Linked DNA regions of Homo sapiens. The protein of the gene in region 3 purifies or fractionates together with the protein of the main gene of each other region. This does not show direct contact. Each region holds a gene or a part of one and is shown on either strand. Other genes may lie near its edges. The genes, in order: SLC16A10, STARD10 and ERAP1.

The links.
Region 1: the proteins of ERAP1 (region 3) and SLC16A10 purify together in Homo sapiens (affinity purification with mass spectrometry; one large-scale study listed by BioGRID and IntAct). This does not show direct contact.
Region 2: the proteins of ERAP1 (region 3) and STARD10 fractionate together in Homo sapiens (co-fractionation; one large-scale study listed by BioGRID). This does not show direct contact.

Annotation. Positions count from the first base shown.
Region 1 is NC_000006.12:111,085,920-111,089,669, reverse strand, and holds the start of SLC16A10 (monocarboxylate transporter 10), read right to left. Parts: upstream 2,168-3,750; 5' UTR 1,918-2,167; coding exon 1,575-1,917; intron 1-1,574. UniProt on the Homo sapiens protein: Sodium- and proton-independent thyroid hormones and aromatic acids transporter.
Region 2 is NC_000011.10:72,777,027-72,780,676, forward strand, and holds part of STARD10 (START domain-containing protein 10), read right to left. Parts: intron 1-3,650. UniProt on the Homo sapiens protein: May play metabolic roles in sperm maturation or fertilization. Phospholipid transfer protein that preferentially selects lipid species containing a palmitoyl or stearoyl chain on the sn-1 and an unsaturated fatty acyl chain (18:1 or 18:2) on the sn-2 position.
Region 3 is NC_000005.10:96,787,436-96,791,085, reverse strand, and holds part of ERAP1 (endoplasmic reticulum aminopeptidase 1 isoform b precursor), read left to right. Parts: intron 1-442; coding exon 443-574; intron 575-718; coding exon 719-790; intron 791-2,400; coding exon 2,401-2,555; intron 2,556-3,650. UniProt on the Homo sapiens protein: Aminopeptidase that plays a central role in peptide trimming, a step required for the generation of most HLA class I-binding peptides.

The DNA.
Region 1 (3,750 bases), on a different chromosome or scaffold from region 3:
ATGCATATCTCCCCTGCTAAACTTTACAATGATTACTTCCCTTAAATGGTAAGGATATGTTACTACATTTTTAACACTTTTTGTACCTAGCCCATTGACCCGCATACCACAGCAGTTTCAATAGCTATTTAAAGAACAGAAATTCCAGGTTAAAATGGTACCGTATTCACATGCATAACGAGAGTGTACAAGAATATTCATTGCAGCATTGTTTAGAATGAGTTTGGAAGCAATCTAAATGCCCATCAGAGGGAGAATGCATAGAGTATAATATAGTCAAACAATGCAAACCACCTAAGTTAAAATGGAAAGAATTTGAGTTATCAGTTCACACTGAGGTATTATGTGGATAAGTCACAAACATGATGCGGAATGGAAGAAAAGTAAGTTGCAGAATGATACAAATAGTTTAATAGTATTTATGTCAGGTTTTAAAACTCTCAGCATAACCCAGCATTACCTTTGTCTCAGAATTTATTACAGTCTTGCCCATTCCTCATATGCATACTAAAGACCTAAGAAATATTCACTCTAAAAATAATAGAAAATCAAGGTTAAAAAAAAAGACTATTAATCATATAAAGTTACCCCAAATGATGGGGAGGGAGGTTGATTTAGTAATGGAAATCACTTAGCCCTTGAAGTCAGTTGATATGTGTTTTATTGCCATTCTACTACCCACCAAGACACTTTCACTGAGCTACAGTTTTCTCACCCAAATGGGGTTGACCGCGCTCACCTTGCAGGATAAAGTGAAAGAATTTATGTTAAAGTGTCATGCAGAAGGTCTTAGATTTGTTTTTTGCCTAACCAGCCAAAAAGTCATAATAATGCTCTACAGGGAGAAAACGCTGAATCTGCACCTTTTGTATCTAATTTACTATATGGTTAAAAAAAAATGTCAAAAAACACAACAGGAAGAGGGAAGAAGCAACCCTTCACCTTCCTCATCCTAGTCCCTAATCCGGCTGCCTCCCGTGTTTTCTACATTTAACCCAGAGGGCAAAAAAAGGCGGGGGGACGGGAACGCACGGAACCGTGACTCTTGCAGGGCCCCCTTTGGAACTCCAGTGACCTTCGTACAAATCTCTTTCATTCCTCCAAACTCCACCCCCCGCCCCGCCAACATACGCACACCCCTCTGCGGCCCAGGGAGGCAGGTGAAGAACTACATAACTGGCATAGTCACGAAAGAGACCACAAAAATGACAGGGCGATGACTGGGGTTGAAGGTTCTGGGGTTCTGTTTGTTTTCAAACAATAAAAGGAAGGGCTCCTGTGGACTGTTAGCGTCTGCTCTGCTGAGGGGAAAGGAGGACGATCTCGGCAAGTAAGTTCTGCGACCTGCTTGCAAACACACAGCTCTGCAGCTGGATTCCATATAAAGACGGGCACCCCGAGGCCCCAGAAGCGGCAGGCTCTGTCTGCAACTCGAAAGACCCCCCTGCTCGCACCCTCTGGCACAGGGACCCACCGACATGCACACTCGGAGGCAGACACAGCCCACACGCGGGATGCGCTCGGGGGCCCCACGCGGGTCGCCCAGGCTGGCCTCGGCGGGCGCCGCGCCTCACCTGTCTTAAAGACCATCTTGTCATCGTCTTTGGAGCCGAAGGTTTCCAGCATGGACACGAAGAGCACCCCGCAAGCGTTCTGGATGCCGAACACCGACCCGTTGCACCACATGGCCGCCAGCATCACCAGCCAGCCCCAGCCGCCCTCGGGGGGTTCGGGGGGCTCATGGGGCTCCGCGGTCGCCGGCCCCGCCAGCTCCACCTCCACCTTCTCGACAGCCGCCTCGGGGCTGTCCGAGGGTCCCGGGCCGGGCGGCGGAGCGGCCCCCGTGGGCGCGGGGCCGAGCGGCTGCGCCTCGCTCGTGCCCCGCGCGGAGTCCGGCTCCTCCTGGGAGAGCACCATGGCCCGAGGCGGGCCCCTCAGGCGCCGGAGAAGCGCGAGGGACGCGAGTTACCAGCGGGCTCCCGGAGGAGCTGCGGGGCTCCTGGCGGGCTAACGAGGCCGAGGCGAGGGCGGCGGAGCCCCTGGCGGGCGGGCGGGCTGGCAGCGCGCAGGCGGCCAGCGCGCAGGCGGCCGCGAGGACAGCTGGCGCGCGCGAACACCTCGGGGATCGACACTGAAGCCTCTAGGTCACAGCCCCGCACCCCCGACTGAGCCCACTGCCAGCCGCCGGTTCTTAAAAGCACCCCCCGCCCCGCCGGCTGGGGGCGTGGCCGGGAGCGGGACGTGCCCCCACAGCCTCCAGATGATTGGGCCTCGGAGAGCGGAGGCGGGGCGCCCCGCGGCGCGCGGCCCCAGGTGCCCGCGGCAGACGCTGTCTGCGCGCGCGTCTGCGACGGGGCCTCCTCCTGCTCAGAGAGGGGCACAGATGTGTGGGTCACCCCGCCTCAAAGCATGAGCAGAAGGGGCGCGTCTCCTAGGTGCGGGCGCGGTGGGCCTTCAGGAGAGCCACACTGGATCGTTAGCCTCAACTCACCGACACAGCGTCACAGTCACACTAACATTGTCTCGATTGTGTTTGTTTTATGTTTTGGCATTCACCTCTCAGTACTAATTATAATATGTAAGATTCGTTATGCCACCTGGCTTCTTAAATAAGTCATCTGAAGGATCAGAGCCCTTATTTTATTACTTCAGTTCCATTCTCTTGCATTCGTATACAATTTCCTTATGAATATTTGGCACACCAAAGATGCTTATTTTCAGTCCTCACTGGACTGCAATTCCGAAGTCTTCAACCAACAAACATTTTTAACAGACAGCTAGAAAGCATTACTTTTCAACTACATCAGAGTCGTTTTCACTTTAAACAAAAACTAAAACCTGTATTCAACTCCTCTGTCTCCCTGAAGCATGGAGTGCCATCCTATGTAAAAGAAAAGAAGAGTAACCTGCTATGCAATATTGAGGATGCTTCTTAATTTCTGTTATTCGTATTCTTCACTTCAATCAAAGTCAAAATATGCTAGTTACTTGATGTGCCCACCACTGTGATAGAGTACACAGATGAGTGCGATTGATCTCGTTTCTGCCTCTTATCAGTTGATAAACTGGTAGGAAAAAAGAGTCCTGGGAGAGACTAGGAGGCTCAGATGATGTGTTATAATACATGTACAAAAGAGAGAGATGAGATAGTCCCTTAAATTCTCTCCAAACACTGTAGAAGAGCCTCTACAGCAAACAGCCTTTGGCCGAAGCCCTGATTCATACATACGACTTCAGTGGGTCAAGACAGGAAAAGAGCATTCCAGGTAGAGAAAATAGCATAAACTAAGGAAAGCAAGCCGTGCTTGGTTGTGGAATGGGGAACATAGCTCAAGTGTAATCTGCCTTAGAAATGAGGGTAAAATAGTAAACAAAGGAATAGGCACATAAGTGCACAAAAATGTATGTATGAAGATGATACCCCAGTATTGTTGGAAATAAGGAAAATTTGGAAGTATAATGTACATTGGTAGAAGACTGATTAGATACTTACTTTAAAACCTCTAAAAGTTCTGAAGGTCATCTGTATTTATTGACTTTGAAAGTTGTCCACAACATATTATTGGGCAAAGAAAGCACATCGATTATATATTTGCATGCACACAAACAAACACATATGTAAGAATTATCCACGAGTCAGTACTGATGTAAGTAAATGATTAAATAAATAATGAGGAGAGAATAGACAAATCTCTCCTGCAGGAAATGTAAATACTTTATGAACATACTCCCTCCCTCATGGAGGTGAAG
Region 2 (3,650 bases), on a different chromosome or scaffold from region 3:
CCCCTCCCACACCTGCTCCAGGGCCAGGTCTCTCCTGTCATGGGCTCAGGCTCTTATCAGGCCTCATTCCTGCCCCAAGGCTGCCTGTGCAGTGGGTAGGAGGTCACCTGGAACTGTCTGTCCTCTCTCCACCAGGGTCTGAAGACCTCTGAGGAGATACGCAGGTCTCCCCTGCCTCTCATGCGGCCAGCCTCAGGAGAACAGAGCACGTGAGCATCCAGGCCAGGGCCTCACAGGCCACGTCCTCTGCTGTCTGCCTGCTCCTCATCTCTCCCCAGCTGGGTGCTGAGTTCAGAGGCTCTTGGAGCCAAGAGGGCCCAATGGCACAGACGGGCAAGCAGCCCAGAGAGGGGCAGGAATGTGCCCAAGGTCACATGCAACAGCCAGGACTGGACCCCAGCTGGCCCTGGTTGAATGACTGACAGAAGCTCTTGGTCTCCCGTTTCTCACACCAATACAGGTGCCATGAGGAAGCTGACCTGGGCTTTGAGAGACCTGAGTTCAGGCTCCAAGCTGCCCCCTGCCTTGTACCCAGGATCCACATTCAGCATCTGTCCCTGGGACAGGGACTGAACTGTCAGGAGGTAGTGTCTGTCTCTTTTCCAGTATTCAGAGCACAGTGCAGCCCTGGGGCCAGGTCAGGCTGGAGGCCAGGAGGGAGGGAAGGGGTGGAGGTGGCCTCCAACAGCCCCTTTCTCTTTGTCCTGGCTCCAACTACTGGGCCTTGAGCCACAGTGGCTTCCAGGGACCTCTGGACCCAGGTAAGGGGAAGAGAGATGAGGAAGAGGAATTGAATCAGGTAGATAGCTAGGTGGAGTCCCACCCCCACCCTGGGATCAGGAGCACGGGGCATGTCCAGGGGTCAGCTGGCTTTCCCAGCTCTGGGGACAGGCCCAGAGCAGGCTGAGGCAGGAGAGGGGAGGGGGAAAGGGGGGCAGAAGCTCAGCAAACACCTGCAGTTGAGTCCCAGCCTCCTGGAGTGACCCAGTCATCCCCAGGGATTCTGGCTCCAGACCTGCTGGGTGACCTTGGCAAGCCACTCCCCTTTGTGGGCCTCGGCTTTCTCATCCATCAAACAAGAATAGGATGATGAGAACAACGCGTCCTCCAGGCCTTCAAAGAGTTATTGATGGGGTTAAAGGCCACAGTGTTGACTAAGATGCGAGCCCATGTGGAGAGGGGCAGGGGCTCTGGAGCCAGGCTGGCATGGGTTCCACTCTTGCCTCAGCTGTGGCATGACCTTAGGCAAATAACATTACCTCACTCAGCCTCAGTTTCTTTGTTTGTAACACAGAGACAAGACTACACTGCCCCAGACTAGCCTCGGGGTAAATTAGATGATGGGGAGAAATGCTTGGCTCAGAGCAGGGCTCTCATTATCAGAAATGGGATTATCTGCATGGAACCTGGGAGTCCTGCAATCTTGGGGATGGGAAGCTCACAGGCCTCTGTCCATCTCTCCCAGAGCTCCAACTAGCTGTGCTGAGAGGATCAGGAGTGGGAGCTGGCACCTTGGGGTGCCCATAACCAGGGTCCCAGCCTCCTTCCTGGGTCTGGGCTCTGCTCACCTCCTCTCCCCACCCTCTCTCCATTGTAGGGAGCAAAGCTGGGGAGGCACCCTGCAGGGAGAAGCAAGGCAGGAGGACTGCCAAGATGCTGTAGATCTGGGTTCCAGACCCAGCTCTGCTGAGACAGCTGTGTGACTCTAGGCAGGTCCCTGCCCCTCTCTGAGCCCCAGTATCCTTGCCTGCATCCCAGGGGCAGGAGGGGTATGACATAGGGATTACCAAGGGCTCTTTGGCACCTCCAACATCTGTTCAGTCTGAAAGAAAAGGAGGGTAGGGTCCTGGCTGCCCAGGGTGTATGCCTGTCCAGAAGCCTACAACACCCCAGTTTTTCCAAGTCCCCGCCACCCACAAGGAAGGCCACCTGACAAGTCTGATCTGGCCACGAGTGGTCTGTTGCAGTCAGCCTGGCCCCAGACCCACCAATTCCAGGCCTGGGCTGGGTAGGGTTTATTCATTAACCAAGCCAGATGGAGGAGGTAGCTCCGCCCTATTGACACAGAGGGTGGGAGTACTGGCCTCAGTTCAGACCCCTCCTCCTCTGACTTTCTGGAGTGCCAGCTTGGTGGGGAAACTACACTTCTCCCCCAGTGTGCACTGCCCGCCTGAAGCCTTTCCCAGGTCACAGTCAGGCTCTCGTGAATTCCCTTCTCACCTTTCATTCAATTTGTTCCTTGGTTCTTTCCTCCCCCCTCTCTTCCACCAATATCCCTGCTCTAACTGTGTTGGATGCTGGGGACGCAAAGAGGACAGGACCTGAGAGGCTGAAGCGGGTGGATCACTTGAGGTCAGGAGTTCAAGACCAGCCTGGCCAATGTGGTGAAACCCTATCTCTACTACAAATACAAAAATTAGCTGAGTGTGGTGGTGTGCACCAGCAGTCCCAGCTACTGCTGGGAGGCAGGAGAATCACTTGAACCTGGGAGGTGGAGATTGCAGTGAGCTAAGATCTCGCTACTACACTTCAGCCTGAGAGACAGAGTGAGGCTTCTCAAAAAAAAAAGAAAAAAGGATAGGAGACCTGTCCCTGCTCTCAGGGAACAACCAGCTGGGACATGCCAGCTGCCTTCCCCATCCCTGCTCCTCAGGCTCAGACACAGGTTCTGAGGCCCTGGGCAGCGAATCCCAAAGTGGGAGACACACATGGAAACCCAGAGGGAAAAACAGTCAGATGGCCAAGGTGCAGACAGAGTCAGAGGGGAGAAGGGGAGGCAGAAAGTGAAAAGCAGATAATCGTGTGGGGATGGACAGAACTATATGTAAATGATTAAGACAAAGTGAGGCAGAAGGGCTCAGGGTCAGAGGGGAAAGGTCAGACATCTCAGGTCTTGGTAAGGGGCCAAGATACATGCCTGAACTAAGTCTGAGACTAGGTCCCAGGCAGAAGGGGAGGGTGGACTCCTCCACATTTCCAGGAGGATAGCAGAAGGGAGAAGGCAAGGAAGAGGAAGGCGAAGGGCACAGCCTATTGCCAGAGCCCATTGCAAGGGGACCTACCAGCCCTGGAAATGCAGCACCCACAGCAACATCAGATGTGTTGGGGGCAGCTATTGAGGCCCTTAAACCAGAGTCTTCACGAGCCCCTGCCCCATCTGGTCCCCTGGGGGATATGCGTTCCCAGGGTCCCAAACCCCAAGCCTGCCCTGCACGGCAAAGAGAGGAGAATTGTGGGGTTGGGAAGAGCAGGGGAGATGGCTGTGAGCGACTGATGTGTCTGCAACTGCTCCCTATGTTGGCTTCCCTTGACCCCAGGCCCCTTCCTTCCCCAGCCCACCTGTAGCCTGGCTCTGTGCAAGGCAGGGGTATTGGAGCCCTGCCTTCAGGATCTGCCAGCCACAATCCTGAGTCCCTGCAGGAGGCTAAGGGAGCAGCCAGGGAGGGAGGGAAGGGAAAGAGCAAGAGCAGGGCATCGGGCAGTAAGGAATCGGGTCCTGGGCAACCCAGGGTGCAGAAAGCGGGGAAGGAGACCCAGCTCAGGCTGAGAACCAGGAATCAGGGAGAGAAGGGCCCAGTCTCCCACCTGGAGTAACTCAAGTCAGGAACCAGGTGCAGGCTTCCCCAGCAGAGGGGTCCCTGAGGGAGACC
Region 3 (3,650 bases):
CTTCCCTGGCATCTACCTCTGCCTCCATCTCTAGTGCTCCACCCCTTGTTGTACTGGCCTCTCCTTAGTCCTGCCCTGGAATGGCAGTGGGAGAGCCAGGTAGTAGCTCAAGGTCCAATGTTTAATCTGCACCATTATCCCCACTCACATGTGAACAAAGGGAGTTGGCAGATGATGCTAATTTGCCCCATCGGGAGGTCTGGCTACTGATAGAAAATAAGGGCCTCAGTGGGCTCAGAGCATAAGCAATCACATTAGACAAATCTCCTGCCTAAACAGGTCCAGGTTTAACCTGCTTACTCTGTTTCACAAATTGCCAGACATTAACAGTGTTCCTGCAGTTGCGTTTTCAAAGAAATGTGTTTTATTGCAAAAGAATATGTGATTTCAGATGAGACTGCAATGAAACTATAGATAACAATTATTTCTATTATCTTTTCAGGGAGCTTGTATTCTGAATATGCTAAGGGAGTATCTTAGTGCTGACGCATTTAAAAGTGGTATTGTACAGTATCTCCAGAAGCATAGCTATAAAAATACAAAAAACGAGGACCTGTGGGATAGTATGGCAAGTGTGAGTATGTTTTTGAATATCTCTGCATTTGGGATTGACAGGCTTATCATCTTGTTTTGTTTTCCCTGCATTATGTTAATCCCTCTGAGGAGAATCATTGTTTTCTATAGAAATAAGAGTGATGTGTTTATTTTTGGTTTTTAGATTTGCCCTACAGATGGTGTAAAAGGGATGGATGGCTTTTGCTCTAGAAGTCAACATTCATCTTCATCCTCAGTAAGTTTCTATATCTGTACATGTTCCCCCAAGCACATTCTTTTACTGCATATTCTTTGAAAGGCAGCTCTGTGCCAAACTTTCTGAGGTCCTTGATTATATCACCCTCATTCCAGATAAGACTGCATTTAAACTATTCCATACTCATAATCTTTTTCAATTTTTCTTAAAGTGTATCTATACTGGAGGGTTGCAGAGCTTTCCTTGGTAATGCTTCTCACTGATACTAATTTCTCTAGCTTCCCTTTTAAAGCAGTGGATTTATGACATGTTTCTATAGCAGATTACAGCTGCATTGTAGCAGTCAAAAGGATATGTCAGTCATTTACAGAGCTCTGCATTTGTACAAAGACAATGGCACTGAGCATTCTTGAATACTTGTCATGTGTCAGGCACATGTTAAGCACTTATATGTATTATCTCCTTTACTCTTCATAATAAACCTGTGAGCTGGGTACTATTACTATCCCTATTTTTAAAGTTGAGAACATGAAATACAAAGACATCTGATTGGTAAATTGCAGAGCAGAGATCTGAATTTAGATCTAACTCATGTTTTTAACTGCTAAGCTATAAAGTATTCATAACATCAAGTCACAAAACAGCCTGAGTCTCTGTTCATCTGGACTTGTGGGATGTTTTCAGAGGAAGCTGAGGGTGAGTCTGGAGATACAACAGAATTTTTTGTTTCTTTTTTCTTTTTATATGTTTACTTTCTTGGCTTTTTTGTTCCTAGAGACTGCTTTATTCAGTAGTTTCTAGATTTGTCCTGTGGCACATTTTATCTTTTTACTAATTCTTTTTTTTTTGAGACAGAGTCTCACTCTGTTGCCCAGGCTGGAGTGCAGTGGCGTGATCTCGGCTCACTGTAGCCTCTGCCTCCCCGGTTCCAGCGATTCTCTTGCCTCAGCCTCCCAGGTAGCCGGGATTACAGGCACACGCCACTACACCCGGTTAATTTTTGTATTCTTAGTAGAGATGAGGTTTCACCATGTTCGCCAGGCTGGTCTTGAACTCCTGACCTCAGGTGATCCACCCAACTCAGACTCCGAAAGTGCTAGGATTACAGGCATGAGCCACCGCGCCCAGCCTTTACTACTTCTTAAATCATTTCTTAAAAGCTTTTTTAGTATCAAAAAACAGCTCCTTTTGAGTTCCCACTATTTGTTGAGTGTGGGTCATCTCTGTGTTCTCACTTTAGAAACACAGGCTCTTGACTGAACATTGTTTCCACCTTGCTTGTCCAAAACCAGCATAGTTAGGTAGGTATTGAAAACCTGGCACTTTCTCTCCCTTCTCTTCCTTCATTCATTCACATGCCTGCTTTGTGCCCAGTGTTATTGCCAGCCCCAAAGTGTGCCCGGCAGAACTAGGTATGCTACCTGTCCTCCAGACACGTATGTGTAGTGGAGGAAAATGACAAGCAAACAGCTGGTGCTCTAATGGAGGTGTGATGGCTGGGGACATCACACTGAGAAAGGGATCAGAAAGTGCTCCTAAGAGGGGAGGTTGGCAACTGGTAGCGGCTGTTTGAGCATAAGCTGGTGTTCTCTCTTTTCTTAGAGTTGGGTTAAATGGGTGATGTGTCTGCCTTTTTGTGTACACACCAGCATTGGCATCAGGAAGGGGTGGATGTGAAAACCATGATGAACACTTGGACACTGCAGAAGGGTTTTCCCCTAATAACCATCACAGTGAGGGGGAGGAATGTACACATGAAGCAAGAGCACTACATGAAGGGCTCTGACGGCGCCCCGGACACTGGGTAATGCTCCTAGAGTAAAATTTGTTTTGTTGTCTAGGTAACATCTGCCTTGTAGGATGGAACCTTGCTTTTGAAATAATGCCCTTACCACTATTGCTAAAATATTTCAGCTGCATCTGTGTATCCTATGAAGTTGACTTATACTCCCTGCCCCCATCTTCCCAGTAGGATTAAGGAGGCTTTAAACCTTGGTTATTCTCAGTAAAGGTGACGATGTAATTACTTTAACATTCTCATATTTTGTAATTTGATATGATGGTAATTTCTGGTTACTGGCTTGAAATCAACTCCAACCTAAGCAACTGCTACTAGATTACAATAGTGCCTAGCATTTGGTTGGAGCTGAGGACAAAAGAATTTAGGTGATTTCCGAGAATGATGAGAGACTCAGTTGTCTTCTTCTGAGTTAGATTTGGAACCTGTTTGTCAGCTTAATGCTATAGAAGAATATTATTAGAAACAAGATGCTGCAACTTGATTGACCCTGGATGGATACCGTTAAAAAATTCTTTTATCTTGAAACAATTTCAGACTTATAGAGAAGTTACAAGAATAACACAACAAATTCCTATATATCCTTTACCTAGATACATGTTAACTCTTTACTCCTTTACTTTCTTCACCTCCCTCTCTCTCTTGCTCTCTCTCTCTCTCTATATATATATGTATATGTTTGTGTGGATATATGTGTGTGTGTATATATACATATATATGTGTATATATATACACACACATATATATATATAATATATACACCTCCCTCCCCCATCTTCCCAAAAGGATTAAGGAGGTTTTAAATCTTGATTAATCGATATCCATCTATCTACATACATACCTATATACATATGTCTGTATGTATATACTTGGCATATGTTTTTCTGAACTGTTTGACAGTAAATTGGTGACATGATTCCCCTTCACACCTAAATGTTTCAGCATAGTATTTTCTACAAAACAACATTTATGGCCGGTCACAGTGGCTCATGCCTTTAATACCAGGACTTTGGGAAGCCGAGGCAGGAGGATCACCTGAGGTTAGGAGTTCGAGACCAGCCTGGCCAACATGGTGAAACACCATCTCTACTAAAAATACAA